Linked DNA regions of Homo sapiens: region 2 is linked to region 1. Evidence: fine-mapped expression QTL. A gene starts in region 1. The other region holds a variant in brackets. All regions are shown on one strand. Distances are from middle to middle.

Region 1 (16,263 bases):
TTGGCCTGATTATTTGTATACAGTACAGCAAGAATAATTATTTTTTTACATAGGCTTTTAAATTGGCTTTGATGGAACTTTGTTCCACAGAAGGAATCTCAGATAATATTTTTTTGAAGTGAAACCCAGCCATGGATTTGTACCATCAAACACCTATGCGTGGGTGAATTTCTCTCCTCTTGAGATCCCAAGATAAACTTGGGGCTCCTGGACCTGTCAGAAAGTTACATTTTTTACTTACCACAGATCAGGAACCCTGTACAGGCACTGCGTAGACAAAGTATGAGGCCAGTTTTCCCAAGGGGCTTTTATTGTCTCCATAAGTCAAGTTTGATTCCTGAAAGAAAGCACAGCGTGCCAGTCAAAGCCTTGGTAAAATAACCAGTTTCTCCAATTGTGTCCTGTTTCAAATAAAAACATATTCTTATTGCACTTATGCAAATAACTGTATTGCCATAAGTTAAGAATACTAATAAATAGTTTCCAAATTCTGGAGAAATCAGGTAGAGAGAAAGAAATAAGCTCCAAATTTTGTTCACGGGAGTATACTAAATTGTTAAAAGCTGCCAATAGCTCAAAAGAAAAGCTTCCTTGACTCTGAAAAATACAGAACAAAGGATCAGCAATGTTTTAAGCAAAAAGTCAAAAAGATTACTTCAGTCTTCTATTAGTTCAGTTCATGCAGCTAATTCCTGCTCTGCTTGATATTCATGAACATTTCAGCTCTCCATGAGTTTTCAAAGTTTTTCCTCTATTCTGATGTCACAGTCTTCAAAGTTATCAGAAACCTGCATTCAAGAGCACCTGTTAGAGTATTATAGTTCTATAAACCACCTTCTAAAGAGGAGCAAAACAAGAAACAATTGTCTGTGGATGACAAAAAGTTTTAGAGCAGCCATAGTCAAAAACACAATTGACAGGGAAATTTGTTACCTCTGTGGCACACCATAATTTAACATGACAATGATTATTACTGATAATGTATACTAAGTTATATCAGAGTTATATGAGTTTCCCATAATTTTGGAACACATGCCAATTACATATTTATACAAATACAGCCCAAAGATAACCAAACACCATTTCATGTTTGACAATACTTCCTGTATAATTTTTACACCAAGTGAGCCAAATTTCATTTTTAGATTTTAGGGAACCTAATATCTTAAAGGATTAATTAGGTCTGAAAAAGAAATAATTTATAATTTGATTTGGAAAGTTTGTCAAATATCAATGGTTTAAAACACTTGATATTACAGGTCATTGTAAAATAAGTCATTCATTTAACCAAAGTGATAACACAAGGATTCCAAAAAAAGGCAAAAACCTTTTTTCTTTGAGAGAGAAGACTTAATTTTCCAAACTATAAGCCCTAATAAAAACAGTGTGATACCAATTAAATCTGTTTTTCAAAATTTTATTAACAATTTATGAACTTTTAATCTTGACAATAGGATATAACTTTCTTAAGCCTTTTATAACCTTTATAACCTTTATTAAGGAGTCAGTTAATGCTTCACTAAAACCTTGTTAATCTGTCACAGGGGGCCATATTCTTGTCTTGCATCAGTGTGCCTTTGACATTAATGATTAATTTACAGAGAAATTGAACTTATTTTGTCTCTCAAAATTGGCCCTTTCAATCTCACACACCCACCTCTTCCACAATAGTCCTGGGGCCTTGAGGAGTTGAATAGCTTTTATTTCTGGCCCTATGTCTCAGGAATGCAATTTATTTTGATTGGCATCTTCTACTGCGCCTGAAGATGAGGCTTTAATTGTTGTCAGTGTTTAAGATGTAGCAGGACTTGGTGTCCTTTATAGATCCAGGAGTCAAAGCCCTGTAACTCAATGTCACAAGGACTTTAAAAGCACATACAGAAAGATATACAGATGTAATAACCTTACTTTTTTAAAAATTTGTTCTAATCTCAGTTTTTTTTACATTCTAAGCAAACCAAAACTTAATGATAATGGCATAGGAATTCTCTCAATAAACTGTAAAATCTCTTAGGCCATTTACCAAAAGGCAAAAGAAAAGACTTTCTGCACTGCACGGAATATTATGCTGGAAGAAAAAATCTCCTTTAGACTTTGAAGAAAAATTGTTGAGTAGACTCCAGAGGACATGAAAGCCATTGATGTCCTCAACAGAAATTTCCAATATGCTAAGTTACAATTGTAAGTGATGCCTGCAGATTCTTTCACAGGCTGTTTCTGTAGTATGCAGACAAACAGAGGAATAAATCTTCCCTAAATCAGAGGGACAGGCCTAATTTCAGGAATAGGCATGAAACAGGAGCTTCCCTGTAGCCCTCAGACCAGAGGTTTCCTCCAGGGCTCAATCTCTGACCCAACAGGAATATGAGTTCCTAACTGAAACTGCCAATGTTTGCACCATTGTAAATCCACTTCTTTGATGCCCTCACTAATTATTAAAATAACATGCAAATTATAGAAAATTTAGAAAATACAAGGGAAAAGAGAATGTCACTGACAGTTTCTACAGGGTCAATGAAGGGGGTCGAATGCAGAAGTAAAGACAAAGACGAAAAGACCTATTTTGAAAGAGGGGGTCAGGGGCTCCTTGCTTCTAGAGAGCAAAGGCAGCCCTGAGTTTCTACAGTCTTTCATATTTGTTAGGTAGAAAGAGCAGGGAGGGAGAGCTAATGGTTGGTCCACTGCTTGATTTATCACAGGTCCACATAATTGCTTTCTTTGTACAACAGGCTTCAGATGTTCCTATAGATAATCACAAGGAACACTGTGCATGAGGCCTGACTGCCCTCAGCACCCCTTCTGGCGGCAGACACAGTTATCAGTTTTCCAACATCCTGCTTTCATAAGAACAGTTTTCTGTTTGCTCATATAGCCTCCAGTGGTATACTGAGTTGGTCACAACTCTCATTCTTTCAGCCTGTAACAAGAGAACAAAAATAAGCTGTAATATTCCCATTGAAAAATACTTAATGTGTATCCACCTACATGATTTTCCTATACAAATGTGTATGTTTGGAGTTTTTAGGACTTTTAAAAAATTATTTTTTTAACTTTTATGTTCAGGGATACATGTGCAGGTTTGTTATATAGGTATGCTTATTACCTGGGTGACTAAATAATTTGTACATCTCCTGCCATGACATGAAATTTACTCATGAAACAAACCTGCACATATACCCCTGAACTTAAAATAAAAGTTGGAAAGAAAAAGATGAAAAAGAATGGTTCAAATATGATGAAAGACATGAATCTACAAATACAAGAAACTTGAAGATCTGCAGAGAGAATACACTGAAAAAGACCCAGACCCACATACATTATAATCAAACTCTCAAAAGCCAAAGACAAGGAGATCATTTGAAAAGCCGCAAGAGAAACATAACTCATGAGGTACAAGGAATTCTGGATGAAGTTATCAGGAGATTTCTTATCAGACACCTTGGAGGGCATATGAGATTATATATATTTTTTAATTGGTAAAAGAAAAAAGAAAACTTGCCAACCAAGAATTCTGTATCTGACAAAAATGACCTTCAGAAATTGGGAAGTTATAAAGACAATGTGATATAAACAAAAGCTGACAGAGCTCATTGCCACTAGAACTACTCTACACGAAATGCTTAAGGGAGTAATTCACTATGAAATAAAAGAATGTTAGATTAGATGGTTATGTAAAGTCGTATCAAGTATAAAGACCTCTCATCAAGGTAAATATGGGACAAAATACAAAAACATGTATTTTTGAAAGTTTTGTTTATACTAGCTTTCTGTTCAAGTTTTAAAATTTGGCTGAGTGCAGTGGCTCATGCCTGTAATTCCAGCACTTTGGGAGGCCAAGGCAGGTGTATCATGAGGTCAGGAGATCAAGACCGTCCTGGCTAACATGGTGAAACCCCATCTCTACTAAAAAGTATAAAAAATTAGCCAGGCATGGTGGTAGGCGCCTGTAGTCCCAGCTACTTGGGAGGCTGAGGCAGGAGAAGGGCATGAGCCTGGGAGGCGGAGCTTGTAGTGAGCCAAGATTGTGCCACTGCACACCAGCCTGGGCAACAGAGCAAGACTCTGTCTCAAAAAAAAAAAAAAATTTAAAATTCAAATGTGTACAAATAACTATAAATCTATGTTAACATGTACACAATGTATGAGGTTGTAATTAGTGACATCAGTAATGTGAAGTTGAGAGAAACACAGATGTGGAAAAGGGGAATTTATGTACAGAATTAAATGTGTATTGATTTCAAAGGAGATTTTATAACTCTAGGATGTTTTATGTCATTTTCATGGTAACCACAAAGAAAACAATTATAGAATATACACAAGTGAAAATGAGAGGGAAATCCAAGTGTCCCTAAAAATCAATCAGTGACACACACAAAAAAATGTTAGTAATGGAGGATATGAAGAACAAAATGCTATAGACATACAGGAAAAGAAAAATATTAAAATGCAAAATTAAGTTGCTGTCACTAATTATAGTTATCTGTCATTTAATGATAAGAATACATTCTGAGAAATGCATTTTTAGGCAATTCAAGCATCATGTGAACACCATAGAGTGAACTTACATGAATCTAAATGGTATATTCTACTATAGGCTTTCTGGTCTAGACCATTGCCTGTAGGCTATAAACAGTAGAGTGCAGCATGTTCCTCTACTGAATACTATAAGGCAATTGTAACACAATGGTATTTGTGTACATAAACATATAAAAGGAGCAGTAATAGGTTTTGTAATCTTATAAATCCACTGTTGTATATATGGTCAATCATTGACCAAAATGTTGTTATGCAGCACATGAATATACTTTAAATGTAAATGGATTAAACCCCCACACCAAAAGGCAGATCAATTTGCAAAATGGATTAAAAGAAACAAGATCCAACTATATACTCAGCACTAGAAACTCAGTTTGCATCTATAGATGTGACTAGTATGAAAGTGAAAGACAGAAACAGATATTCTATAAAAACAGTGACAAAAAAGAGCTGTGGTGGCTATACTAGGACCAGGAAAAATAAAATTTAGTCAAAAACTGTGATAAGATATAGACAACATATTATATACAAGCATATCTCAGAGATATTGCAAGTTCAATTCTAGACTACTGCAATGCAGCAAATATGACAATAAAATGAGTCACACAAATATTTAGATTTCCCAGTACATATAAAGTTATGTTTACACTATACTGTCATATATTTAGTGTGCAATAGCATTACAGCTAAAGAAAAAAATATGCATGCATTTGTTAAAAATATTTTATTTCTGAGAAATGCCAATAGTCATCTGAACCTTCAGCAGGTCATAATCTTGTTGATAGTGGAGGTTTTAGATATGATGTCGATGCCTCCTGACTGACCAGGGTGGTGGTTACTAACGGGTGAGGTGGCTGTGGTCATTTATTTAAAATAAAATAAAATAAAATAAAGTTTGCTGCATTGATTGAGTCTTTCATGTGAGATTTCCTCTTTCATTTACACACACACACACACACACACACACACACACACACTATATGTTTTGTTTCTTGGGACAACCCTGACTAATATAGATTTTGGTATCTGGAGCAGTTCTAGAGGAATAGAATTTTGAGTTTCCTGAATTGGTTTTGGGGTTTCTGGCATTGTCAGTCTAATCAGATTAGACTTGAAAATGCGAAGGACTTTATTTCCAATAATGAAGAGAGCACTGATAGTCCATGATATGAAGTATTTATAGAGTGCACAAAACATCTGCATTGATACTCTACTTAACAACTTAAAAGAGGCAAAAAAAATAGTGACTCTGTATGTGATACTTTCAAACATTTGTGGAAAACTAAGAATAGAATGATGTTGGTTAGTTGCACCTCATATTGCTGGAAAGAGGAAGAAAAAAAAGGGTGAGCTCAGGAATTCAAAATCCTGGATTAAGCACACATGACCTAAGAGCTTCTAGGTGTGCGCTGAGTGAGAATCCTATGTCTTACAGCCACAGGGCTGAAATTGCTGAAAATCAAATGCAAGTGACACCAAAAGCACAGTCAACAGAGGAAAACATAGATGAATGAGACTTCATAAATTAAAACATTTTTGCATCAAAAGAGACTACTAAGCATCAGAAAGCAACCTATAGAATGGGATAAAAATATTTAGTTGCAAGTCATATTTCTGATGAAGCTGAATACCATGAAATTTCCTGGCAGATGCCCAGCACTCTCAACTTCATCCCAAGCTGCCTTTACTCAGCTGCCAAGACACTTCTTGGTGTCTTCAGACTTCTGTGTGAAGTTTCTCCAGAGTTAAACCCTGCATGTACCCCTAACTTGATGTAAAATTTGGATTATGATATCTTCTGATTGTACACAGATCAGACTTCCTGTTCTATCATGATTTCCCTTCTCTCCTGAATTCAGAATATTTTCTGACAGTCTTTGGATTTATACTTTGATCTAATCCTGGTGACTCCCAACTAGACTAATTGGAAATGCTACAACTGGTGAAAATTTTGTTTCCAATGTCCTTGTTATAGGAACAGAACTATGTTGCTTCATTCGCATCACGCCAGGCAATTCAGTATATTCTCTCAACGATATTCAAAAGTAAACTCTGTTTCTCTTCTCTGTGTGTGTGTGTGGATTGGTTTGGTTTTATGAGAAGGAGTCGTCCAGGCTGGAGTGCAGTGGTGCCATCATAGCTTACGTAGTCTCAGCCACCTGGATTCAGGTGATCCTTCCACCTCAGCCTCCCTATTAGCTGGAACCACAGGCGCATGCCACCTCGCCCGACTAATTATTTTATTATTTGTAGAGACAACGTCTGTGGCCCAGGCTGGATGTGTGTTTTAAGACTAAAATCTTTTAGACACCACCAAAATAAAACAACTCTGAAGTGCCTGTGACACAGGATAATCCCTAGGATCATGTGAAGGTGGACAAAGTACCCTGGTTACTTCCCTCTCTCTCCACATCCGTTTCCTCCCTTCTGTATTTTGGGGATACTATCCACTCCTCTTTCGTGCTACTGTGCTCCAGGAGAAATAAAAACATGGGACAGAATAAATCTTTCTGGGTTCACACTAACAGCCTCTCAGGGTTGGAGGGGAGCTTGAAGGCCAAATTAAACCAAGTAATTGGGGAAAGTATCAGACAGCAACAGGAATAAAATGTGAAGTCCATGGATAAACACCTTTATTATGCAAGGAGTTTATCCTAATCTATAAGAAAATGTCTGGTTCTCAAAAACAGAATTCAACAGACTTTTCCTCTGGCAAACCTGCATTTCAAACATCACTGGGAATTCATCCAGTTGTCTTCAATGAGAATCATTTCAACATGTCCTGCAGCAAATAACTCCACTGTTGGTGCTTTGATAGTTAGAAAACTCCTCTATATGGTGCAAATAATTTTCAATCCACAAATTCAGATGAGTAAGAAGAAAGAAAAGTTACCTGTTTTCTTGAAATTAAACTTCTTTAGGCTGTTGCAACCTTGATCCTCCTTGTCAAATGCCAGCTGAGGATCTGATGGCCTCACAAACGGACCCAAGGTTTTGGGTGGTCCCTCCGGGTGTCCTGCTCTGTTTCTGTGGAGACACTCATGGCTCCCAGAGCTTAGCCCCATTCAGGCCCAGCTGCTTTGCCTTCCGTGAACATCACTCCAGCTCCAGAGGGAAAAGGGATGGTTTCCACCTTCAGATATCAAAGTCTAAATAGGGATATGGGAGAGCAACAAATGAAAAAGGCTTAACATAATGGCCTGTAAAAGTAAAGAAGGATGGTCATTGGGTGGTAACTGTGCTAGGAGACAAAACCCCACCATCCAGACATTTTTCTTCCTCTCCAGGCTATGGAGATTTTCTCTCAGACAGTGTCTGGAAGATCCCACAAAATGACACAAAAATATTGGCATTCACAACAGAAACCAATCAAGGACTCTTGCTCAACTGCACTGAAAGTTAGAGTAACTTATCCTATGTGGTCACAAACTTTGGAAGTTGTCTCTTAACACAGCTGTGCTTGTCATCTCTAAAGCACTCTGCTTGGTCCTCCCAGACCAAGATAAACTCTAACCTCACAGAGAGCGGCTTAAAGTTGACAGTAGGCTCAGTACATCTGAGCAAGGCAACCCTGTACTCACTGTCCAATAAACTTAGTATTTCTTCTGGCTAACTCAAGGGAAATTATAGTGCTGATAATAGCAATGACACCAACGCTACTAGCTAAGATTTTGAGTTTCTATTCTGTATCAGGCAAGACTATCAGGGAATCCTCTCAAATACCCTACAAAGTAGATTTAACTTGTAACTTATTTTACAGAAAAGGGAACAAAAAGGGTTACTTACTTGTCCAAGGTGATTTGAAGAAGAAACTGTGTCCTGAATATGAGCTCTCAGTGAGTGAAGATTCCTAAAGACTTTTTTAGATCCATGCCTTTTGTGCATTATTTGTTATTTTAATATCACTCAATACTATAGCCGACCCCTAGAATCTACTGGAGCCATGCTGTCAGGATGACTCAGCAGTTTTCACACATTCTGACCACTCTTGTATAGGTACAAAATGCAGGGTGCATTGTAAAGAGAAAATTATTAACTTGGATGGTTGTTTGGATTAGAGTACAGGCAGGTGCAAAAAAAGTAATTCAAATTGGTTTAAAATCCACAAAAATGTGTTAGTCCCATAACAAGAAGTCCAGAGGGAGGGTAAACTCTGGGTGTCATCCATGAGAGTGCAGAATTTCTCTCATCTTCTCCTTTTTCTTCTTCTGTGTATTGATGTCGTCCTCAGGCTGGGTGGAGACTCCACAGCAATTTCACACCTCACCTTGCAATGGGACAATATCCCCTTGAAGAAGAGAAGCAACCTCTCTTCAAAGGCTCCTTCTTAGAAGTGAGAGAAACTCTCCTAGAAGTACCCAGCACAGTGCTTCTTATGTGGCGTTGGCTAAGGCTGGGTCACAACTCTTTATCCACAGTGACTCCTATGCCAACCACAATGAAATTAGCATGGCTGACCTAAACAAATTATTTAAAGTAAAACTGATGTTGGAAAGGCAATCATCTTGACTGCTGAAACCATAGTGAGAAAGTGCTTTTCTTTAAATTAGATGTTTCCAAACTTACTTGTGTAGAATAAGTGGAGTCTGATCAATTTCAATTTAGTATATTATTTAGCCTAATTTTCATACGTAAACTTCTATGGGTATTGAAAGAATGCAAAGAGGAAAGAAGAGAGACCTAATGACAACTCTTGATGAATCAAGAACTTGATAAATCAAGGTATAGTAGAAACTGCAGAGTTAAGAGACTTCATTAATATAAGATGTGTCCAACTGAAGGTTTCATAGATGAAGCACGTTTAAGTAGTAAACATGGGATCCATTGCCTGAAGTATAATCTAGACATCAGTAGAAATTCTGAAGAGTTGAGAATGTTGGCAAACTGAAAAGCTTGAGTTTTCCATATGAACAACAAAAGACAATGTCAACAGATCCTGAGAATAAATTTTAGAATAAAATAATGAAGGGCATGTATCCAGAAGGAGGAAATACAATAGGGTCAAGATTACATCAGCTTTAAAGAAACAGGTATTTATTCATGTGGTTTTCCTCTTGATATCTGAGATAAAAGTCTAGAGTTTCAGGATCCAGTGGCTGGACATAGAATTCTTTCTATTACAAAAATTAGAAAACTAAAGTTTAGTTGCTCTAAATTTACTTACAAAACTAGTGTAGTAGGCTCAGTAATGGCCCCCAAAGACATACATGCCCTTATCTCTGGAACCTGAAAATATGTTACCTTAATGGCAAAAAGGGCTTTCTTTTTTATAATTCGTTCTTTTTAATTGAGTGTCATTAAAGAGTACTTTCTAAGCAGTTAAATGCACCAGGAGCTGTATTAACATAGGGCCACAGAGATGAGTAAGAGGAGACATTCACAGTCTCATGAGGCAGATCACAGATTATACTTAAGGCCTGTGAGTATAGAAAGGTTGCTTTCACATTTTTCTCATTGAAAATGTCTTTTCTTGGAAGCCTGGTATGGTTTTACAAAAAGAAGGGGGACCTTTCAGATGTGTTTTGGAGACTGAGTATTTTCCTAACTAAAATGATATTTCGCCCTGTTTCTAAACTCCCCTCCAAACTTGGCTCTGTTTGATTAGTCATCTTTCTCCTCAACCCTGAGATCCTGCCACAGTTGATCCAATGGAACGTCATGTTTGTGAATAAACTAAAGTGAAGTTATGTTGGGTTCCTTAGAGGTGGGCTTCAGATGGACGAAGATGACACTGGAGTAAGAGTCTTGCCTCGAAGATCCGGAGAAATTCCAGAGGATCTTAACTTGGTGGAGGCCACTGGGGACACCTCAGTCACTAGCACTGAGGGTCTATTAATTTCATAATTCATTTGTCATTCAGCTTAGTGAGATTATATAGCTGAGGAAATGGGAGTTGTGAAGGTAAAGAAAGCCAAGGAAGACAAAAATTTGGAAGAAATAGTTGGTGTCTCGGAAAAGGAATGCCACAGTAAGGAGAAATGTCACTGGACACTTAGGGGAGGCCATGGAAGCAGGGCCCACTGTGACTTCCCTAGGACATATGCACATTTGCTTTCATGGACCAATGCTCTATACAAATATTAAAATTAAGTCTTACATTGCCTTGGTATAGACATGAAGATAGACGAGGCTGGATTCATTATTACATATTCATCATTGTTGTATTCTCTTTTTCTTCTGACTTTAAAATAAATTAAAGCTAGAACATTATCATGGGCTCCTATAAGTATGATGGGTCATAGACACCGTGCCTTCTATTCTAATAGGCAGTGGCCCTGCGTGCAGGACCGGGCACAGGTAGTAAGGGCACTAAAGAAGTGCATTCATGGCGGGGCACAGTGGCTCATGCCTGTAATTCCAGCACTTTGGGAGGCCGAGGTGGGCAGATCACGAGGTCAGGAGTTCGAGACCAGACTGGCCAACATGGTGAAACCCTGTCTCTACTAAAAATACAAAAATTAGCTGGGCGTGGTGGCAAACGCCTATAATCCCAGCTGCTCAGGAGGCTGAGGCAGGAGAATTGCTTGAACCCGGGAGGCAGAGGTTGCGGTGAGCCGAGATCGTGTCACTGCACTCCAGCCTAGGCAATAGAGCAAGACTTTGTCTCAGAAAAAAAAAAAAAAAAATTGAAGAAGTGCATTCACAATGGTGCAGATGTCAACAGTTTCACTTACTGACTCACATTCCTGTTGGGTCACAGATTGAGCCACATGAGGACTATAGGGAAGCTCCTGTTTCATACCTATTCCTGAAATCTGGCCTGCCTTCCTGATTTAGGGAAGATGTATTCCTCTGTTTGCCTGCATATTACAGAAAACAGCCTGTGAAAGAATCTGCAAGCATGACTTACAATTGTAACTTAGCATATCGGAAATTTCTGTTGAGGCCATCAGTGGCTTTCATGTCCTCTGGAGTCAACTCAAAGTCAAAAACCTGAAAGGAAGAAAACACTCACATTAACCTTTCCCCAGGACAGCAGCTTCTTCCTGGGAATACAAGGCTTTCCGGGGGCAGAGGCAAGGATGGCAGTATGTAAAGTTTCTGTCCTCATTGGCCTCTAGGTGAGACCTCTTCCCCCTGAGTTCTGCTACTTTTCCATCCCACCTCCCTCCTGCTCTGCTCCACTTCTCAAAAGAAAGACAACTTATCAATCTAAGACATTTCTAGAGAATTGCTTGAGACAGAAAAAATAAATTCTTTATACTAAACAAAGGCAAATCTGGACAAAATACCTGCTTCCTTGACTTGATCACACTTGGTCAGGATTTTCCTTACTCACTTCCCCTGGAACTTGACCCAGTCTTTGACTGTGCAAGCCTTGGAACACAAGACAACCTTGCTCCAAGAATGTTTTGGCCTTAGAAAAGCATTTCTTGATCAATTGTTCCACCATACCACTTGCTCACTGCAGGCCCCCAAATACTATTTCCAGCTACTACTAAGTACTACCAAATACTACTTCCTTACAAAACAAAACAAAACAAAAAAAACAAACAACAAAAAAAACCTTTTTTGAATATATTTATCTTACTTAAGCCAAGAGTTGTTTTTATTTGAAAACACATTGACACATAGTCCCCTGATGAAGAATCCCTTAAAGCAAAGAAAAAGATATGTGGTTTAAAAAAATTAAGTTCATTATTTCATGCAGAAGATGGAAAACTCAGAGCCCTATCTATCTATCTCTCCGTCCATCTATGATATACATATCTATCTAATGTGTTTCTCTCTCTCTCTCTACCTATATCTGTCCATTATCTACCTATCCACCCATACATTTACCCATCAGTGATTCATCTTAAAAATATACTCCAGAAATGACATGGTTGTCACAGGGATATGTATTAATATGTTGAGTTAAATTGAAAAATAAAATAAAATAAGATTTTTTTCTGTATGGTAACAAGGTTTAGATTTGCCTATTTGATTTTTGTATAACTTAAAAATTTTAATCTAGAGCTACAAAGTTGTGAAACAAATACATTAGAAAATATGCTTCAAATATCATCCTTTGTAATAACTAAACTCATGTTGATTTTTCTAGCTGCCATCTTTAAATGGAAAACAGCATACATAGTCTTTCAAAATTCTTTTAGAATTCAAAACAAAGTAAATTAAAGACCACTGATTGATCTAATGGATTGGAGTGTATATGAGGAAGGCTTCAGGCAAAATCTTTACTCATTGATTTACTATTAATAATTTGGTCAGTCTATGAAATTATACCTAGCTTCCTACCAGCCCGGGGCACTGCCAGGGGAAAGGTGATAAAAGATGACCCAGAAGGAGTCACAGCATTTAGGGTCTCACAGTCCAGAGAGCACACTGACATCTTAGCAAACAATGTTAAGTTAAAAGGGAAAAGACTCACTAACAGAACCATGCCAGGCACTATTGTGGTGAAAAATGTGCTAGAGTGTCCCAATGGTTATGTATGTATGATATGTAACAAAGCAGGTAATCCTATTTGAGTTTGATCATAAAATACAAATAGAGGTTTGTCAGATAGAGATGGTGAAGGAGAGAAATGAAGGTCCTTAAAGTTCCTTACCATGTAGAACTCCTGAAACTCATGAAAATGATGGAGTTGAAATTTGCTTAGTGTCACACAACTAGTGAGTGGCAAAGCCAGCCCTAGAGGTGATAAACTTTAGGACTGTGAATCCAGTGATCTCTTCGCACTTTTCCATCCTGCCCCCTCCCTTAGCACACAGAGGAGAGAAGCACGGGCATGAATGACATATGGTGCATTCCCCCCTGGAAGAGAGATCACCCAGACCAGCGCCCATGGCTCACTTTGGAGCAACACCACTTGACCTGTACCTGGAAGTTCTCTTTGATTCTCTTCTCAGAGAAGCTCTTGGCCAGGACCACCACCCCCCCGCTGCAGCTCATAGCACAGGGCAACCTGGCCTGGGCTTCTATTGTATTTCTTGGCAATGGATTTCAAGGTTGGCTCCTCTAAGAGATATGGGCTATCTGGGTCCATCCTGGAGAAAAACAACAGATATGAAGAGTATAGATGAAAAATCTAGAGTGTGCTACCCTTTTGCCCAAAGCCCCAGACAATGAGAGAAGACACAATATAGTATGTTTCAAGGTGTCTCATAAATATTCATAGAGATTTATTCGCAATTGTGGCAAACTGGAAACAACTAAACTGCCCATCAATAGGTGAATGGATAAACAACTTGTGGTGTACATGTCCATATAATGGAATATTTCCCAGCAGTAAAATGGAAAGAACAGACACCTGCAACTACAGGAATGAATGTCACAGACAGGTTGAGCAAAAGAAGCTACACCAAAGAATATATATGACTTCTTTACATAAAGTACTACAGCAGACAAAACTAATCTAAGACCGAAAACGTTATGAACATAGTTGCCTAGAGGTGGGGAGGAATTGTCTCAGAAGGAACACCAATTAACATTTTTGGGAGAAAGTTTCCATATCATGACAATAATGTGGATTACAAAGTACATTCATTTATCAAAATTGTACAGCTAACGTATATGCATTACAGTCTATGTAAATTTCACCTTCAAATCACTTTGAAATTGTATTTGGAGTGGGGTTGGGAGAAGGCAGATATACAAATGAAACAGGAGGGAAGGAATGTTGGTGACATTGAAGCTCAGTGGTGTCACATGGGAATTCACTGCACCGTTGTGTTCACTGTTCTATGTTTGACTTGATCTAGAATGAAATGCTAAAAGTTTCTTAATCAATAGAGTTGCTGATATAGATTAACTCTTCGATACTCTTATTACCAGTTTGGGTCTCTGTGAGATGCCAGGGCCCTGTAGGCAACTAGAACAATGTCCTTGGACTTGCAGAACTCCAGGAGTTTGCTCTAGTTGAGGTAAGGGTGACATTCCACCTGTAATTTTTCAAGACCAAAAGGTGTCAGAATACATGAGCAAATAACCACATGTAAATTTTAAAATGCTTTGAAGGAATATCTAGTACTATATTAATATATGTACTATGTATTTCATATTGGTCATTTTCCCCATGCACCTTCTGAAATGCTTTCAAATTCCATCAGTGGTCATACTAACATGATAACTTACTTATTCTTTTTTTATTAGTGTTTTAAAATGATTAACATCTCTCGTGCCCAAATTATAGTCTCTAAATGACATTTCTACTCAGACAAACCAAGATTTCTTAGAAAAATGGCTAATTCTAGTTCTGACTGGGGAAGCTACAAGTTCAGCCTAGAACAGCTTACATTCTAAATGGCAAAGAACATAAAGAAAATGAGGCAAGTCAAAGGACCAAGAAGCTCAATTGAAAAGGCTCCTGCTGGTCAAAATGATGGCAAGTTGAGCAACAAAAGGCATAGTAACTACAATGGTTGGGAAAAGGACATATTTGTTAAAATTCATGAGTTCAAATGATGTTAACCAATTGTGATCAAATCTTTAGCTCTAACTTTCAATTTACAGAAAGTACAAAAGGAACATGTTAAATTGTATCACTGGATCAACCAGTATATCCTATACGGAGGAAAACTTTACAGGAATAAAAGGCTTAAGTTTTCATTAGTAAATTGAAGGAAAGAAAGAGGCAGAATGAGAATGAGGACTATGGAAGAAGAGAAGGAAGAGAAGGTAGAAGAGCAGGAGGAGAAGAAGGAAGAAGAGAAGAAAGAGAAGACAGAGGAGGCAGAAGAGGAAGAGGAGGAGAGAAGTAAAAAAAAAAAAAGAAGAGAACAAACTTATTTATTGAAAGAGTGATTTGGCCGGGATCAGTGGCTCACGCCTGTAATCCCAAAACACTGGGAGGCTGAGGCGGGCAGATCATGAGGTCAGGAGTTTGAGACCAGACTGACCGTCTCTACTAAAAATACAAAAATTAGCCAGGCATGGTGGTGCATGCCTATAGTCCCAGCTACTCAGGAGGCTGAGACAGGAGAATAGCTTGAACCCAGGAGGTGGAGGTTGCAGTGAGCCAAGATCGTGCCACTGCAGTCCAGCCTGGGTGACAGAGCGAGACTCAGTCTCAAAAAAAAAAAAAGAGTGATTTATGAGACATATCATCCAATTGCAATGTATGGGCCTTATTTCCACATCAATTTAAATGAATCAACTTTAAAAATATGATAAAATTATATTTTAGCACTCATGATATTTACTAACAACAAGAAATTATTGCTACAATTTCAAGTGGTATAAAAGTATTCTGGCAATGTTTATTTAAAGATTTAGAGATTTTTAAAATATTTTACAAAACATTTTCAGATACAATGATATCATGTCTGCTTCAAAATAATACAGAGGTAGAATTATCTACGTAACATGTTTGGTTGTGAGATAATTATTGCTTAAGTGTGATGATGGGTACATAAAAAGAAAATGATTATAACATGAGGGGATATTCAAAAAATTGATTGAAAATGTGCATTATGAAAAAACCATACATGGATTTCAAAAAAAAATGCTCCAAAATAAACTTGTACTAATTTGTTATGATGTGTCTGAACAGGATCTAGTTTGAGGCATTGAGAAAGATAAAACAACTCCCCTATCAGAAAAACATGAATTCAGCTAAATTGAAGTAAGAACAAAAATCAAATTTATTGTGAAGCATGGGTGGAAGAATGGTGAAATTATTGACTCTTTACACAAAATATATGGGCAAAATCCCCCAAAGAAATCAGAAGTTCACAAATGAATAATTCATTTGAAGAAGGAACGAGATGATGTTGAAGATGAAGC
Region 2 (16,263 bases), 26 kb before region 1:
CTCACACACAATAATAGTGGGAGACTTTAACACCCCACTGTCAATATTAAACAGATCAACAAGAGAGAAAATTAACAAGGATATTCAGGACTTTGAACTCAGCTCTGGACCAAGCAGACCTAATAGACATCTACAGAACTCTCTACCCCAAATCAACAGAATATACATTCTTCTTAGTACCACATCATACTTATTCTAAAATTGACCACATAATTGGAAATAAAAGACTCCTCAGCAAATGTACAGGAATGGAAATCATAACAGTCTCTCAGACCACAGTGCAATCAAATTAGAACTCAGGATTAGGAAACTCCCTCAAAGCCACACAACTACATGGAAACTAAACAACCTGCTCCTGAATGACTACTGGGTAAATAACGAAATTAGGGCAGAAATAAATAAGTTCTTTGAAACCAATGAGAACGAAGACACAATGTACCAGAATCTCTGGGACACAGCTAAAGCAATCTTTAGAGGCAAATTTATAGCACTAAATGACCACAGAAGAAAGCAGGAAAGATCTAAAATTGACACCCTAACATCACAATTCAAAGAATTAGAGAAGAAGAAACAAATTTAAAAGCTAGCAGAAGACAAGAAATAAGATCAGAACAGAACTGAAGGAGACAGAGACATAAAAACCACACACACCCCCAACCCCGCCAAAAAAAAAAAAAACAAACACACACACACACACACACACAGAAAAAACAAAAACAAACAAAAAACAATGAATCCAGGAGCTGGTTTTTTGAAAAGATCAACAAATATACAACTAGCCAGACTAATAAAGAATCAAATAGATACAATAAAAAATGATAAAGGAGATATCACCATTGATCCCACAGAAATATAAACTACTATCAGAGAATACTATAAACACCTCTATGCAAACTAGAAAATCTAGAAGAAATGGATAAATTTCTGGACACATATACCCTCCCAAGACCAAACAAGAAAGAAGTTGAACCCATGAAGAGACCGATAATAAGTTCTGAAACTGAGGCAGTAATAGCCTACCAACCAAAAAAAAGACCAGGACAAGACAGATTCACAGCCAAATTCTACCAGAGGAACAAAGAGGAGCTGGTACCATTCCTTCTGAAACTATTCTGAGCAGTGGAGAAAGAGGGACTCCTCCCTAACTCATTTTACGATGCCAGCATCATCCTGATACCAAAACCTGGCAGAGACATGACAAAAAATTCAGGCCAATATCCCTGATGAACATCGATGCAAAAATCGTCAATAACACACTGGCAAACCAATTTCAGCAGCACATCAAAAAGCGTATCCACCACAATCAAGTCGGCTTCATCCCTGGAATACAAGACTGGTTTAACACATGCAAATCAATAAACATAATCCATCAAATAAACAACCAATGACAAAAACCACATTATTATCTCAATAGATGCAGAAAAGGCCTTCGATAAAATGCAATAGCGCTTCACGCTAAAAACTCTCAATAAACTAGGTATTGATGGAACATCTCAATAAGAGCTATTTATGACAAACCCACAGCCAATATCACACTGAATGGGCAAAAGCTGGAAGCATTCCTTTTGAAAACTGGCACAAGACAAGGATCCCCTCTCTCACCACTCCTATTCAACATAGTATTGGAAGTTCTGGCCAGGGCAATCAGGCAAGGGAAAGCAATAAAGGATATTCAAACAGGAAGAGAGGAAGTCAAATTATCTGTTTGCAACTGACACGATTGCATATTTTAAAAAGCCCATTGTCTCAGCCCAAAATCTCCTTAAGCTGATGAAACAACTTTAGCAAAGTCTCAGGACACAAAATCAATGTGCAAAAATCACAAGCATTCTTATACACCAATAAAGGCAGAGCCAAATCATGAGTGAACTCCCATTCACAATTGCTACAAAGGGAATAAAATACATAGGAATACATTTAAGAGGGATGTGAAGGACCTCTTCAAGGAGAATTACAAACCACTGCTCAAGGAAATGAGAGGACACAAACAAATGGGAAAACATTCCATGCTCATGGATAGGAAGAATTAATATCATGAACATGTCCATACTGCCCAAAGTAATTTATAGATTCAGTGCTATCCCCATCAAGCTACCAATGACTTTCTTTGCAGAATTAGAAAAAACTACTGTAAATTTCATATGGAACCTAAAAAGAGCCTGTACAGCCAAGACAATCCTAAGCAAAAAGAACAAAGCTGGAGGCATCATGCTACCTGACTTCAAACTATGCAAGGCTACAGTAACCAAAACAGCATGGTACTGGTATCAAAACATATATAGACTAAAAGAACAAGAACAGAGCCCTCAGAAATAACACCACACATCTACAACCATCTGATCTTTGACAAACCTGACAAGAACAAGCAATGCTGAAAGGAATCCCTATTTAATAAATGGTGTTGGGAAAACTGGCTATATGCAGACAACAAACCGGACCCCTTCCTTACACCTTATACAAAAATTAACTCAAGATGGATTAAAGACTTAAACGTAAGACCCAAAACCAGTAAAACTCTAGAAGAAAACCTAGGCAATACCATTCAGGAGATAGGCATGGGCAAACACTTCATGACTAAAACACCAAAAGCGATGGCAACAAAAGCCAAAATTGACAAATAAGATCCAATTAAACTAAAGAGCTTCTGCACAGCCAGAGAAACTATCAGAGTGAACAGGCAACCCTGGGAGAAAATGTTTGTAATCTATCCATCTGACAAAGGGCTAATACCCAGAATCTACAAGGAACTTAAATTTACAGACAAAAAAAAAAAAATCAAAAAGTGGGCAAAGGATATGAACAGACATTTCTCAAAAGACTACATTTATGCAGTCAAACACGAAAAAAGCTCAACATTACTCATTAGAGAAACGCAAATCAAAACCACAATGAGATACCATCTCATGCCAGTTAGAATGGCAATCATTAAAGTCAGGAAACAACAGATGCTGGAGAGAATGTGGAAAAATAAGAATTCTTTTACACTGTTGGTGAGAGTGTATTAGTTCAACCATTGTGGAAGACAGTGTGACAATTCAACAAGGATCTAGAACCAGAAATACCATTTGACCTAGCAATCCCATTACTGGGTATATACCTGAAGGATTATAAATCATTCTACTAAGACAACACATGCACACATATGTTTATTGTGGCACTATTCACAATAGCAAAGACTTGGAACCAACCCAAATGTCCATCAGTGATAGACTGGATAAAGAAAATGTGGCACATATACATCATGGAATACTATGCAGCCATAAAAAAGCATGAGTTCATGTCCTTTGTAGGGACATGGATGAAGCTGGAAACCATCATTCTGAGCAAACCATTGCAAGGACAGAAAAACCAAACACCACATGTTCTCACTCATAGGTGGGAATTGAACAATGAGAACACTTGGACACAGGGTGGGGAACATCACACACCGGGGGCCTGTTGTGGGGTGGGGGGATGGGGAAGGGATAGCATTACGAGAAATACGTAACGTAGATGGATTGATGGGTGCAGCAAACCACCATGGCATGTGTATACCTATGTAACAAACCTGCACATTCTGCACACATATCCCAGAACTTAAAGAATAAAAAAAATTGTGGTTTTTGCATTGTTGGAATTTGCTGTTTGATACTAGAATACATTCTTAAATAAATGTGATTATATTATGTATCATTTTAATGGGCATTTCTCACTTTATTTTGCTAGTGACTTATTACTTGCTGTTTATTTTATGTTTATTTTAGACTGGAAATTACATTAGACAAAAAGCAAATTCGAGTGATTTTCTTATTCGAGTTCAAAATGATTTGTAAAGCAGCAGAAACACACAACAACAAAAACACACTTAGCCCAGGAACTGCTGACTAATATACAGTGCAGTGGTCGTTCAAGAAGTTTTACAAAGACAAGAGCCTTGAAGATGATGTAGTGGCCGGCCATCGAAAGTTGACAACTACAAATTGAAAGCAATCAAAGCTGATCCTCTTACAAGAAGTTGCCAAAGAACTCAACATCGATCATTCTACAGACGTTTAGCATTTGAAGCAAATTGGAAAGGTGAAATAAGTGGTACCTCATGAGCTGAGCAAAAAATCAAAAGAACCATGAAGTTTCATTTTCTCTTATCCTATGCAACAACAATGAACCATTGCATGATTTGATTGTAACATGCAACAAAAAGTGAGTTTTATAAGACAACTGATGAGGATCAGCTCAATGGTTGGACCAAGAAGCCCCAAAGCACTTCCCAAAGCCAAATTTGTACCAAAAAAGGTCATGGTCACTGTTTGGTGATCTGCTGCTGGTCTGATCCACTACTGCTTTCTGAATCCCAGCAAAATCACATCTGAGAAGTATGCTCAGCAGATATATGAGATGCACTGAAAACTGCAATGCCTATAGCAGTCACTGGTCAACATAAATGGCCCAGTTTTTCTCCACAACGCCCAGTTGCACGTTGCACAACCAACACTTCAAAAATGGAAGGAATTGTGCTACAAAGTTTTGACTCATTCGCCATATTCACCTGACCTCTCACCAACCACCTACCACTTTTTGAAGCATCTGACAACTTTTTGCAGGGAAAATGCTTCCACAACCAGCTTGATACAGAAAATGCTTTCTGAGAGTTCATAGAATGCTGAAGCATGGATTTTTATGTTATAGGAACAAACTTATTTCTCATTGGCAAAAATGTGTTGGTCGTAATCGTTCCTATTTCGATTAACAAAGATGTGTTTAATACTAGGGAGTTTTTCTCGGTGTGGTAGTTAGAGTTGGAAGAATCAAAATAATTATGAAAACACACCATGAAATAAGTGAATAAATCAAATAATTACTAACAATGACAATTCTTAAGAAACTGAAACAGAGGGTTGAGAAGGAGACAGATAATGGGGACTGGGAAGCTACGCTGAATAGAGTGACACAGGGATGAAGACCTCACTGAGAAGATGAGACTGAAGCTAAGAACAAAATGATGAGAGAGAGGGGGTGACATGGTGCTCTAGGGAACCTCTGCTCAGACAGGTACTATTCTTGGCGTGACTCAAGTACTTTCCTAAAGGAGAACTTGACAAGGACACGGTCATATTGTTGCGGGGGGAAGGGGAGTGAGTCTCAGGAGATTCGATTTGGAGCCAATGCCTCTGCTGGACTTCTCCCGGGACGTGGGAGAAGTAAGCCAGAGACAGGAGATGAGACTTGGCAGTGTGATTTAGACTTGCGCATGCTCTTAACCATGACACCTGCTTCTGGTTCCAGAAATGTAGTGTCGCACTTAAATGTGCTCCCCTACCCGTTACACCTAAAAACAGTAAAAGTCTCTGAAATGTTGAGAAAAGAAGGCAGACTGTCTAGGGACCTAGACCCCAGGACTGAAGAGATGACTGGGCAGTAAGTCCTCTGGATCTTTTTGCCTCCTGTATATCCTGGACTGGGCACTGAGGAGGCTCATGACCTAGAAACACCAGTGGGCACAGTCAGCAAAACAAAGCAAACAAAGGTGGAGAAACAGGATGAGGTGGCTGTCTCTGGGCAGGAGAGTCAAACATGGCTAATGAAAAATGTAAGATGGTGCAGCCACATTGAAAAACAGTGAGGCAGTTTAACAAGTTAAACATACACTTATTCTAGATCCCAGAAGTTCCATTCCTAGACAACCACCCAAAAGAAAAATGTAGATTCACAGACTCCTACACAAATGTTCATTGTACCAATACTATTCATAATAGCCAAAAACTAGAAACAATCTAAATTCCGTTCACTGGTGAATAGAGAAACAGAACGCGGTACATCCATACAATGGAACAAATACTTCTCAATAAGAAGGAGCAAACTATTGGTACAGGCAAGAACAAAAATTAACCACAAATATTTTAATCAAGTAAAAGTCAAATATTTAAAAAATTATTGTTTGACTTGATTTTTATAAAATTTCTGGAAGAGGTGAAGCTTTATAGACAGAAAGTAGGTTACAGGTTACTTAGAGCTGGTGTTGGGAGGAGAGATTGCCTGCAGATGGGCACAGAGAATTTTTTTGGGGTGATGAAAGTGTTTCAAAATGAGATTGTGGTTATAGGGCCAAAAAGGGAAATCTTACCTCTTTATCCTTTGAAATTTCACTGAAAATGAATGAACAAAAAAAAAATTATGAGGAGCGAAAAGGCATATAAGTTTATTTTTATGTGTATAGAATGGAAGAATTGCAGAAGAATCATGACCTAATAACCCAGGTGAGGTCCAGGTGCTTATATACCTCACTTCATGGGAGAAGGGGAGGTGAGGAAATAGGCGGTATGGGAGTCAATGATTTTCAGGAGAGATGAATGGACCTGGGAGGCAAAGATCATCCTGTAGTCTATTTACTTTGGATGTTGGGAGCACAGAACAAATAACAATTTGGGACAAAGTTGGTTTAGGCTGTAAATGTTGGTGTTTAATTTTCAGTCTCTTCCTCTGTTACATAAGTTCTAATCCTCTTTGGTTAATGAAATTTCAGGGAGAGATTGAAAGCAATTGTGTTCCTCTTTGTGAGTCCAGTTTCTAGGTAAAGAAACTTCAGAAAAGAGCCTAATCTTGCACTTCTTGGGAGACAAAGGGAGGAAAGGTGGGAGGAGGGGAGGGGTATGGTGGGGGAGACCCTGAGCCTGCTGTCTCAGTTCAGCCTGTCAAAGCTCCCTACCTTGGGGTATCATTTTCCACTTTGTAGTATGATTTTCTGAGCCTTAACACAGGGATGATTGCAGAACTCTAGACATTTGCTAAAACTCATAGAACTGTATGTTAAAAATTGGTGAGTTTCATGATATATAAATTACACTTCAATAAAGGCGCTGGCACACAGCAGTAAGTATTGTTGTTGTTACTGTTCTGATAACCTCAGCATTTGTCTAACTTCCTGCGGCATGAAAAACAGGAATGGAGACAATTTTAGGCAGGAGGAGCTGCACAGCAGAGTTCATTTGGTCTGGGGGATGGTGGGTAGGGGTGCCCTGGGGCTGAGAGCAGGAGGATCTGCTGTCTTTAGTGGGTTCTGAGTACTCCCTACTGCTCTCTTACATGCTGGGTGTCTCCTCTTTTCCTACAGTTCACACACGTAGAACACCCAAGGCTAGGAAAGGAGAAAACTTGGGGTGCTGATGGCAGCAAGCTTTTCAGTATTAAAGGGAGCTGTGTTCTCTGAAGTTGGAGTGTCTTCAACTGTGGCTTATCCCCCCTTCAGCAAGCACAGGTCCCATGGCATAGATTCTGAGGAAGACCTTGGTGAAGAATGCGCACTCCTAGCTCAGACCAAACTCTGCAACCTTAGCAAAGCTGGATATTTGATCTGTTGCATTCTTCTGATCATGTGTTACAACCTACAAATGGTAGAGCCATTGGCACTCAAACACCTGATGTTTTTCCCTGGTGTAATCCATGCCCCAGAGACAGGAAATTCTCCCTTGGTCTTCCAGGCCACAGTTTGGGAAGGTGTTTATCCCTGGGACCAGGGGCTTCAAAATTCAGCAATAATTACTGATATGATTTGGATATTTGTGCACTCCAAATCCTATGCAGAAATGTAATCCCCAGTGCTGGAGGCAGGGCCTGGTGGGACGTGATTGGATCATGGACTGGATCACTCATGAATGGTTCAGCACCACCCCCATGTGATTAGTTCTCGCTTTGAGTTCATGGGCACCTGGCTGTGTAAAGTGTGGCACCTGCCCCCTCACTCTCTTGTTCCCACTCTTGTGGTGTGAGACACAGGCTCCCCCCTTACCTTCCGCTGTCACTGTAAGCTCCCTGTGGCCCTCCCCAGAAGCAGATGCCAGCACCATGCTTCATGTCCAGACTGCAGACCATGAGCCAATTGAACCCCTTTTCTTTATTAATTACCCAGTCTCAGGTATTCTTTCATCATGATGCAATTGCCCTATTACCATCACTCCCA[T/C]ATCCTAGTTTCAAGGAAGGCTGTTGTTTTAGTCCCAGCCCAAGCGAACATGTGAAAATATAGCCTCACAAAGTGAATATGGAACTCTTATTCTTATATGCCTGACTTAAAAAAATAGTGTAAAGTGAGGAGGAGCCAAGATGGCCGAATAGGAACAGCTCCGGTCTACAGCTCCCAGCGTGAGCGACGCAGAAGACGGGTGATTTCTGCATTTCCATCTGAGGTACCGGGTTCATCTCACTAGGGAGTGCCAGACAGTGGGCGCAGGCCAGTGTGTGTGCGCACCGTGCGCGAGCCGAAGCAGGGCGAGGCATTGCCTCACCTGGGAAGCGCAAGGGGTCAGGGAGTTCCCTTTCCGAGTCAAAGAAAGGGGTGACAGACGCACCTGGAAAATCGGGTCACTCCCACCCGAATATTGCGCTTTTCAGACCGGCTTAAGAAACGGCGCACCACGAGACTATATCCCACACCTGGCTCAGAGGGTCCTACGCCCACGGAATCTCGCTGATTGCTAGCACAGCAGTCTGAGATCAAACTGCAAGGCGGCAACGAGGCTGGGGGAGGGGCGCCCGCCATTGCCCAGGCTTGCTTAGGTAAACAAAGCAGCCTGGAAGCTCGAACTGGGTGGAGCCCACCACAGCTCAAGGAGGCCTGCCTGCCTCTGTAGGCTCCACCTCTGGGGGTAGGGCACAGACAAACAAAAAGACAGCAGTAACCTCTGCAGACTTAAGTGTCCCTGTCTGACAGCTTTGAAGAGAGCAGTGGTTCTCCCAGCACGCAGCTGGAGATCTGAGAACGGGCAGACTGCATCCTCAAGTGGGTCCCTGACCCCTGACCCCCGAGCAGCCTAACTGGGAGGCACCCCCCAGCAGGGGCACACTGACACCTCACACGGCAGGGTATTCCAACAGACCTGCAGCTGAGGGTCCTGTCTGTTAGAAGGAAAACTAACAACCAGAAAGGACATCTACACCGAAAACCCATCTGTACATCACCATCATCAAAGACCAAAAGTAGATAAAACCACAAAGATGGGGAAAAAACAGAACAGAAAAACTGGAAACTCTAAAACGCAGAGCGCCTCTCCTCCTCCAAAGGAACGCAGTTCCTCACCAGCAACAGAACAAAGCTGGATGGAGAATGATTTTGACGAGCTGAGAGAAGAAGGCTTCAGACGATCAAATTACTCTGAGCTACGGGAGGACATTCAAACCAAAGGCAAAGAAGTTGAAAACTTTGAAAAAAATTTAGAAGAATGTATAACTAGAATAACCAATACAGAGAAGTGCTTAAAGGAGCTGATGGAGCTGAAAACCAAGGCTCGAGAACTACGTGAAGAATGCAGAAGCCTCAGGAGCCGATGCGATCAACTGGAAGAAAGGGTATCAGCAATGGAAGATGAAATGAATGAAATGAAGCGAGAAGGGAAGTTTAGAGAAAAAAGAATAAAAAGAAATGAGCAAAGCCTCCAAGAAATATGGGACTATGTGAAAAGACCAAATCTACGTCTGATTGGTGTACCTGAAAGTGATGTGGAGAATGGAACCAAGTTGGAAAACACTCTGCAGGATATTATCCAGGAGAACTTCCCCAATCTAGCAAGGCAGGCCAACGTTCAGATTCAGGAAATACAGAGAATGCCACAAAGATACTCCTCGAGAAGAGCAACTCCAAGACACATAATTGTCAGATTCACCAAAGTTGAAATGAAGGAAAAAATGTTAAGGGCAGCCAGAGAGAAAGGTCGGGTTACCCTCAAAGGAAAGCCCATCAGACTAACAGCAGATCTCTCGGCAGAAACCCTACAAGCCAGAAGAGAGTGGGGGCCAATATTCAACATTCTTAAGGAAAAGAATTTTCAACCCAGAATTTCATATCCAGCCAAACTAAGCTTCATAAGTGAAGGAGAAATAAAATACTTTATAGACAAGCAAATGCTGAGAGATTTTGTCACCACCAGGCCTGCCCTAAAAGAGCTCCTGAAGGAAGCGCTAAACATGGAAAGGAACAACCGGTACCAGCCGCTGCAAAATCATGCCAAAATGTAAAGACCATCGAGACTAGGAAGAAACTGCATCAACTAATGAGCAAAATCACCAGCTAACATCATAATGACAGGATCAAATTCACACATAACAATATTAACTTTAAATATAAATGGACTAAATTCTGCAATTAAAAGACACAGACTGGCAAATTGGATAAAGAGTCAAGACCCATCAGTGTGCTGTATTCAGGAAACCCATCTCACGTGCAGAGACACACATAGGCTCAAAATAAAAGGATGGAGGAAGATCTACCAAGCCAATGGAAAACAAAAAAAGGCAGGGGTTGCAATCCTAGTCTCTGATAAAACAGACTTTAAACCAACAAAGATCAAAAGAGACAAAGAAGGCCATTACATATTGGTAAAGGGATCAATTCAACAAGAGGAGCTAACTATCCTAAATATTTATGCACCCAATACAGGAGCACCCAGATTCATAAAGCAAGTCCTCAGTGACCTACAAAGAGACTTAGACTCCCACACATTAATAATGGGAGACTTTAACACCCCACTGTCAACATTAGACAGCTCAACAAGACAGAAAGTCAACAAGGATACCCAGGAATTGAACTCAGCTCTGCACCAAGTGGACCTAATAGACATCTACAGAACTCTCCACCCCAAATCAACAGAATATACATTTTTTTCAGCACCACACCACACCTATTCCAAAATTGACCACATAGTTGGAAGTAAAGCTCTCCTCAGCAAATGTAAAAGAACAGAAATTATAACAAACTATCTCTCAGACCACAGTGCAATCAAACTAGAACTCAGGATTAAGAATCTCACTCAAAACTGCTCAACTACATGGAAACTGAACAACCTGCTCCTGAATGACTACTGGGTACATAACGAAATGAAGGCAGAAATAAAGATGTTCTTTGAAACCAATGAGAACAAAGACACCACATACCAGAATCTCTGGGACGCATTCAAAGCAGTGTGTAGAGGGAAATTTATAGCACTAAATGCCTACAAGAGAAAGCAGGAAAGATCCAAAATTGACACCCTAACATCACAATTAAAAGAACTAGAAAAGCAAGAGCAAACACATTCAAAAGCTAGCAGAAGGCAAGAAATAACTAAAATCAGAGCAGAACTGAAGGAAATAGAGACACAAAAAACCCTTCAAAAACTCAATGAATCCAGGAGCTGGTTTTTTGAAAGGATCAACAAAATTGATAGACCGCTAGCAAGACTAATAAAGAAAAAAAGAGAGAAGAATCAAATAGACACAATAAAAAATGATAAAGGGGATATCACCACCGATCCCACAGAAATACAAACTACCATCAGAGAATACTACAAACACCTCTACACAAATAAACTAGAAAATCTAGAAGAAATGGATACATTCCTCGACACATACACTCTCCCAAGACTAAACCAGGAAGAAGTTGAATCTCTGAATAGACCAATAACAGGCTCTGAAATTGTGGCAATAATCAATAGTTTACCAACCAAAAAGAGTCCAGGACCAGATGGATTCACAGCCGAATTCTACCAGAGGTACAAGGAGGAACTGGTACCATTCCTTCTGAAACTATTCCAATCAATAGAAAAAGAGGGAATCCTCCCTAACTCATTTTATGAGGCCAGCATCATTCTGATACCAAAGCCGGGCAGAGACACAACCAAAAAAGAGAATTTTAGACCAATATCCTTGATGAACATTGATGCAAAAATCCTCAATAAAATACTGGCAAACCAAATCCAGCAGCACATCAAAAAGCTTATCCACCATGATCAAGTGGGCTTCATCCCTGGGATGCAAGGCTGGTTCAATATACACAAATCAATAAATGTAATCCAGCATATAAACAGAGCCAAAGACAAAAACCACATGATTATCTCAATAGATGCAGAAAAAGCCTTTGACAAAATTCAACAACCCTTCATGCTAAAAACTCTCAATAAATTAGGTATTGATGGGACATATTTCAAAATAATAAGAGCTATCTATGACAAACCCACAGTCAATATCATACTGAATGGGCAAAAACTGGAAGCATTCCCTTTGAAAACTGGCACAAGACAGGGATGCCCTCTCTCACCACTCCTATTCAACATAGTGTTGGAAGTTCTGGCCAGGGCAATCAGGCAGGAGAAGGAAATAAAGGGTATTCAATTAGGAAAAGAGGAAGTCAAATTGTCCCTGTTTGCAGACGACATGATTGTTTATCTAGAAAACCCCATTGTCTCAGCCCAAAATCTCCTTAAGCTGATAAGCAACTTCAGCAAAGTCTCAGGATACAAAATCAATGTACAAAAATCACAAGCATTCTTATACACCAACAACAGACAAACAGAGAGCCAAATCATGGGTGAACTCCCATTCACAATTGCTTCAAAGAGAATAAAATACCTAGGAATCCAACTTACAAGGGATGTGAAGGACCTCTTCAAGGAGAACTACAAACCACTGCTCAAGGAAATAAAAGAGGACATAAACAAATGGAAGAACATTCCATGCTCATGGGTAGGAAGAATCAATATGGTGAAAATGGCCATACTGCCCAAGGTCATTTACAGATTCAATGCCATCCCCATCAAGCTACCAATGACTTTCTTCACAGAATTGGAAAAAACTACTTTAAAGTTCATATGGAACCAAAAAAGAGCCCGCATTGCCAAGTCAATCCTAAGCCAAAAGAACAAAGCTGGAGGCATCACACTACCTGACTTCAAACTATACTACAAGGCTACAGTAACCAAAACAGCATGGTACTGGTACCAAAACAGAGATATAGATCAATGGAACAGAACAGAGCCCTCAGAAATAATGCCACATATCTACAACTATCTGATCTTTGACAAACCTGAGAAAAACAAGCAATGGGGAAAGGATTCCCTATTTAATAAATGGTGCTGGGAAAACTGGCTAGCCATATGTAGAAAGCTGAAACTGGATCCCTTCCTTACACCTTATACAAAAATCAATTCAAGATGGATTAAAGATTTAAACGTTAAACCTAAAACCATAAAAACCCTAGAAGAAAACCTAGGCATTACCATTCAGGACATAGGCGTGGGCAAGGACTTCATGTCCAAAACACCAAAAGCAATGGCAACAAAAGACAAAATTGACAAATGGGATCTAATTAAACTAAAGAGCTTCTGCACAGCAAAAGAAACTACCATCAGAGTGAACAGGCAACCTACAACATGGGAGAAAATTTTCGCAACCTACTCATCTGACAAAGGGCTAATATCCAGAATCTACAATGAACTCAAACAAATTTACAAGAAAAAAACAAACAACCCCATCAAAAAGTGGGCAAAGGACATGAACAGACACTTCTCAAAAGAAGACATTTATGCAGCCAAAAAACACATGAAGAAATGCTCATCATCACTGGCCATCAGAGAAATGCAAATCAAAACCACTATGAGATATCATCTCACACCAGTTAGAATGGCAATCATTAAAAAGTCAGGAAACAACAGGTGCTGGAGAGGATGCGGAGAAATAGGAACACTTTTACACTGTTGGTGGGACTGTAAACTAGTTCAACCATTGTGGAAGTCAGTGTGGCGATTCCTCAGGGATCTAGAACTAGAAATACCATTTGACCCAGCCATCCCATTACTGGGTATATACCCAAATGAGTATAAATCATGCTGCTATAAAGACACATGCACACGTATGTTTATTGCGGCACTATTCACAATAGCAAAGACTTGGAACCAACCCAAATGTCCAACAATGATAGACTGGATTAAGAAAATGTGGCACATATACACCATGGAATACTATGCAGCCATAAAAAATGATGAGTTCATATCCTTTGTAGGGACATGGATGAAATTGGAAACCATCATTCTCAGTAAACTATTGCAAGAACAAAAAACCAAACACCGCATATTCTCACTCATAGGTGGGAATTGAACAATGAGATCACATGGACACAGGAAGGGGAATATCACACTCTGGGGACTGTGGTGGGGTCGGGGGAGGGGGGAGGGATAGCATTGGGAGATATACCTAATGCTAGATGACACATTAGTGGGTGCAGCGCACCAGCATGGCACATGTATACATATGTAACTAACCTGCACAATGTGCACATGTACCCTAAAACTTAGAGTATAATAAAAAAAAAAAAAAAAATAGTGTAAAGTTTCCTCTTCAAAGTTTTCCTTGTGAAAGAATAAATCATAAATGTTAGAAATGATAGTTTCTTTTAAAGACTAACTTCCTTCAAGCCTCCTTGCTTTATGCTAATAACTTTGTTAAGCCCTAGGCTATACAGCTGTTAGACATGCTCACAGGCAAGTTGTACATCCTATGTCCTTGTACCTTAACCAAGATATTTGTGTTGGACGTGCTCATAGGCATGCCCCAGCTCACAGCCTATGCCCCTTTCTTATTTGGGAATATTACTTTTCTACCTATTTAAAAAAGCTTAAAATTAGCCAATCGGGTTTTAATTTAGATTGTGAGGTCTGGCTCCAGCCAGCGGAGACAGGACGGACACAGCAATAGGGACCTCATGCGTAAGGAATAGATACCCTGATGTCTCTTTATTCTATGTGTGTCCTCACCATTGTTCCATCTGCAAGGGGTACCCTTTCTGCAGAAAGTAAAAATTGCCTCACTGAGAGAACTTTTTGTCTGAATGCTGATTTTTCCTTGTGGCACAAAAGAAGAAACATTTTGCATTTCTAACACTAGGAACACTGATTTCCACGTAAAAAATACTCAGTAAATATTTCTGGAACTGAATTTCAGGTAGGATATCTAACCCCACCTATTAATCCTAACCTCTGGCAAAGGTGGCTTCAATCTTGTGAATGCTTAAGAAGCCTTAATGAGATTTAAGGAACAAATCTCAGGAACAAATAAGTTTATATTTGTTCTAGTTATCTGCCTCAGTGAACACCGTGACAATTACATAACCCAGCATTCTCGTCCCATCAGCCTGAACTACTTAAGGTGGCGGATTTCATTGATAACCTCCCAGAGGATGCAGGGCCAGGGTCATCCTGACTGACACTCCTGTCTGCTCAGTGCCCCTCCTCCTCCCTCTCCTGCTCTGCTGTAGCCCAGGAGGGCAGCCTCTTCAGCCCAGGGTACTGCCTTCTCTGCCCGCAGCCTTCCAGGTGGGCTTGGCCACTGTGAGGTGCTGCTGAGAGCAGAAAGGGAAGCCAGAGTCCAGGTGCCTTTTCTTCCCTTCTCTGGGGGACACAGCAACAGCTTCCATCCCTCCAGTCATCCTGGCTGCCTCCCTCAGGCCCTCCATGGCTGCTGCTTCTTCCAGGGACCCCGGGATCTGCCTCCAGCACTGCCTCCTCTGCTTCTCTAGCCTAGGAGGGTAGCGACTTCCTGTGTTTAAAAGCCTCTGGGTTGCTTCATTGTTCCCTACTGGCTTCCAGATACTCCCACCATCTGATGACACATCCTGTTTAAATAAGCAGCATGGATTTTTATATCCTGGTTCATGACTGATGCTGCTACCTCAAGATGTCCCTGGTCATCTCTGAACCTCCTCAGGGCTGCCACCCTGCACCTGTCCACAAGCGGCCATGTGTGAACTCCCCCCTGTGGCCACCATGCTGGCCTCCTGTGCTGCTGTGTTCTCTGTGACTAGAGCATTTGTCACTCAGCTGGGCATAGCTGTACCCTGTTGAGGAAGACCCTGCTGTTAGTCCCAGCCCTGAGGGGAGGGATGACGAATGCTTCGCTGCTCTGTTTGAGTGCAACATGGGCCTCTCAATTTCCCACTGCAAAAAAACAGTGTTGGATGCAACCTTTCATAAGGATTTAGAGATAGTTTGCAGATCACAGAAAATAAGAACAGAGCACAGAAAAACTTAAAAAAAAAAACCCCCACTGTGCCTATGCTTAGAACTCAATTTCATTCATTCCGCAAATATTTATTGAGCACTGACCACATACTAGGGAGCTTTTCTAGGTGTGGTGATTAGTGTTGGAGAAATCAGTCAATAAATATGAAAACACACCACAAAATAAGGGAATAATTCAGGCAATTGCTCTGGTCACATTTGTTCTGAAGAAACTAAAACTGAGGAGTAAGATGGAGAGACACAGTGGGGACTGGGGAGCTACTTTGATTAGAATGACACAGGGACAAAGACATCACCAAGAAGGTGAGACTGAAGCCAAAAACCAATGATGAGATAGAGGAGGTAACACGAGGCTCTGGAAAACCTCTGCACAGGTAGATACAAGCCTCTATGTGAATCCCACATTTTCCTAGAGAAGAACTTGACAAGGACATGGCCATCTTGTTGCAGGGGCAGGGAGTGAGTCTCAGGA

The links. PIP is the estimated chance that this variant, and not a neighbour inherited with it, causes the effect.
Region 2: its variant is fine-mapped to the expression of LINC02561 in blood mononuclear cells (TOPMed, PIP 0.98).

The regions. Positions count from the first base shown.
Region 1 is chr10:5,263,769-5,280,031 of GRCh38, forward strand. LINC02561 (long intergenic non-protein coding RNA 2561) reads right to left here and starts at 7,468. Exons shown (of 2, transcript NR_149060.1): 1 at 7,430-7,468; 2 at 2,221-2,917. It also overlaps the pseudogene AKR1C7P. RefSeq lists an enhancer at 7,771-8,970.
Region 2 is chr10:5,237,296-5,253,558 of GRCh38, forward strand. No RefSeq gene overlaps it. Among named protein-coding and RNA genes, the nearest start is that of LINC02561, 26 kb to the right of the region's middle. The variant T/C (reference allele first, on the strand shown) is at 7,934.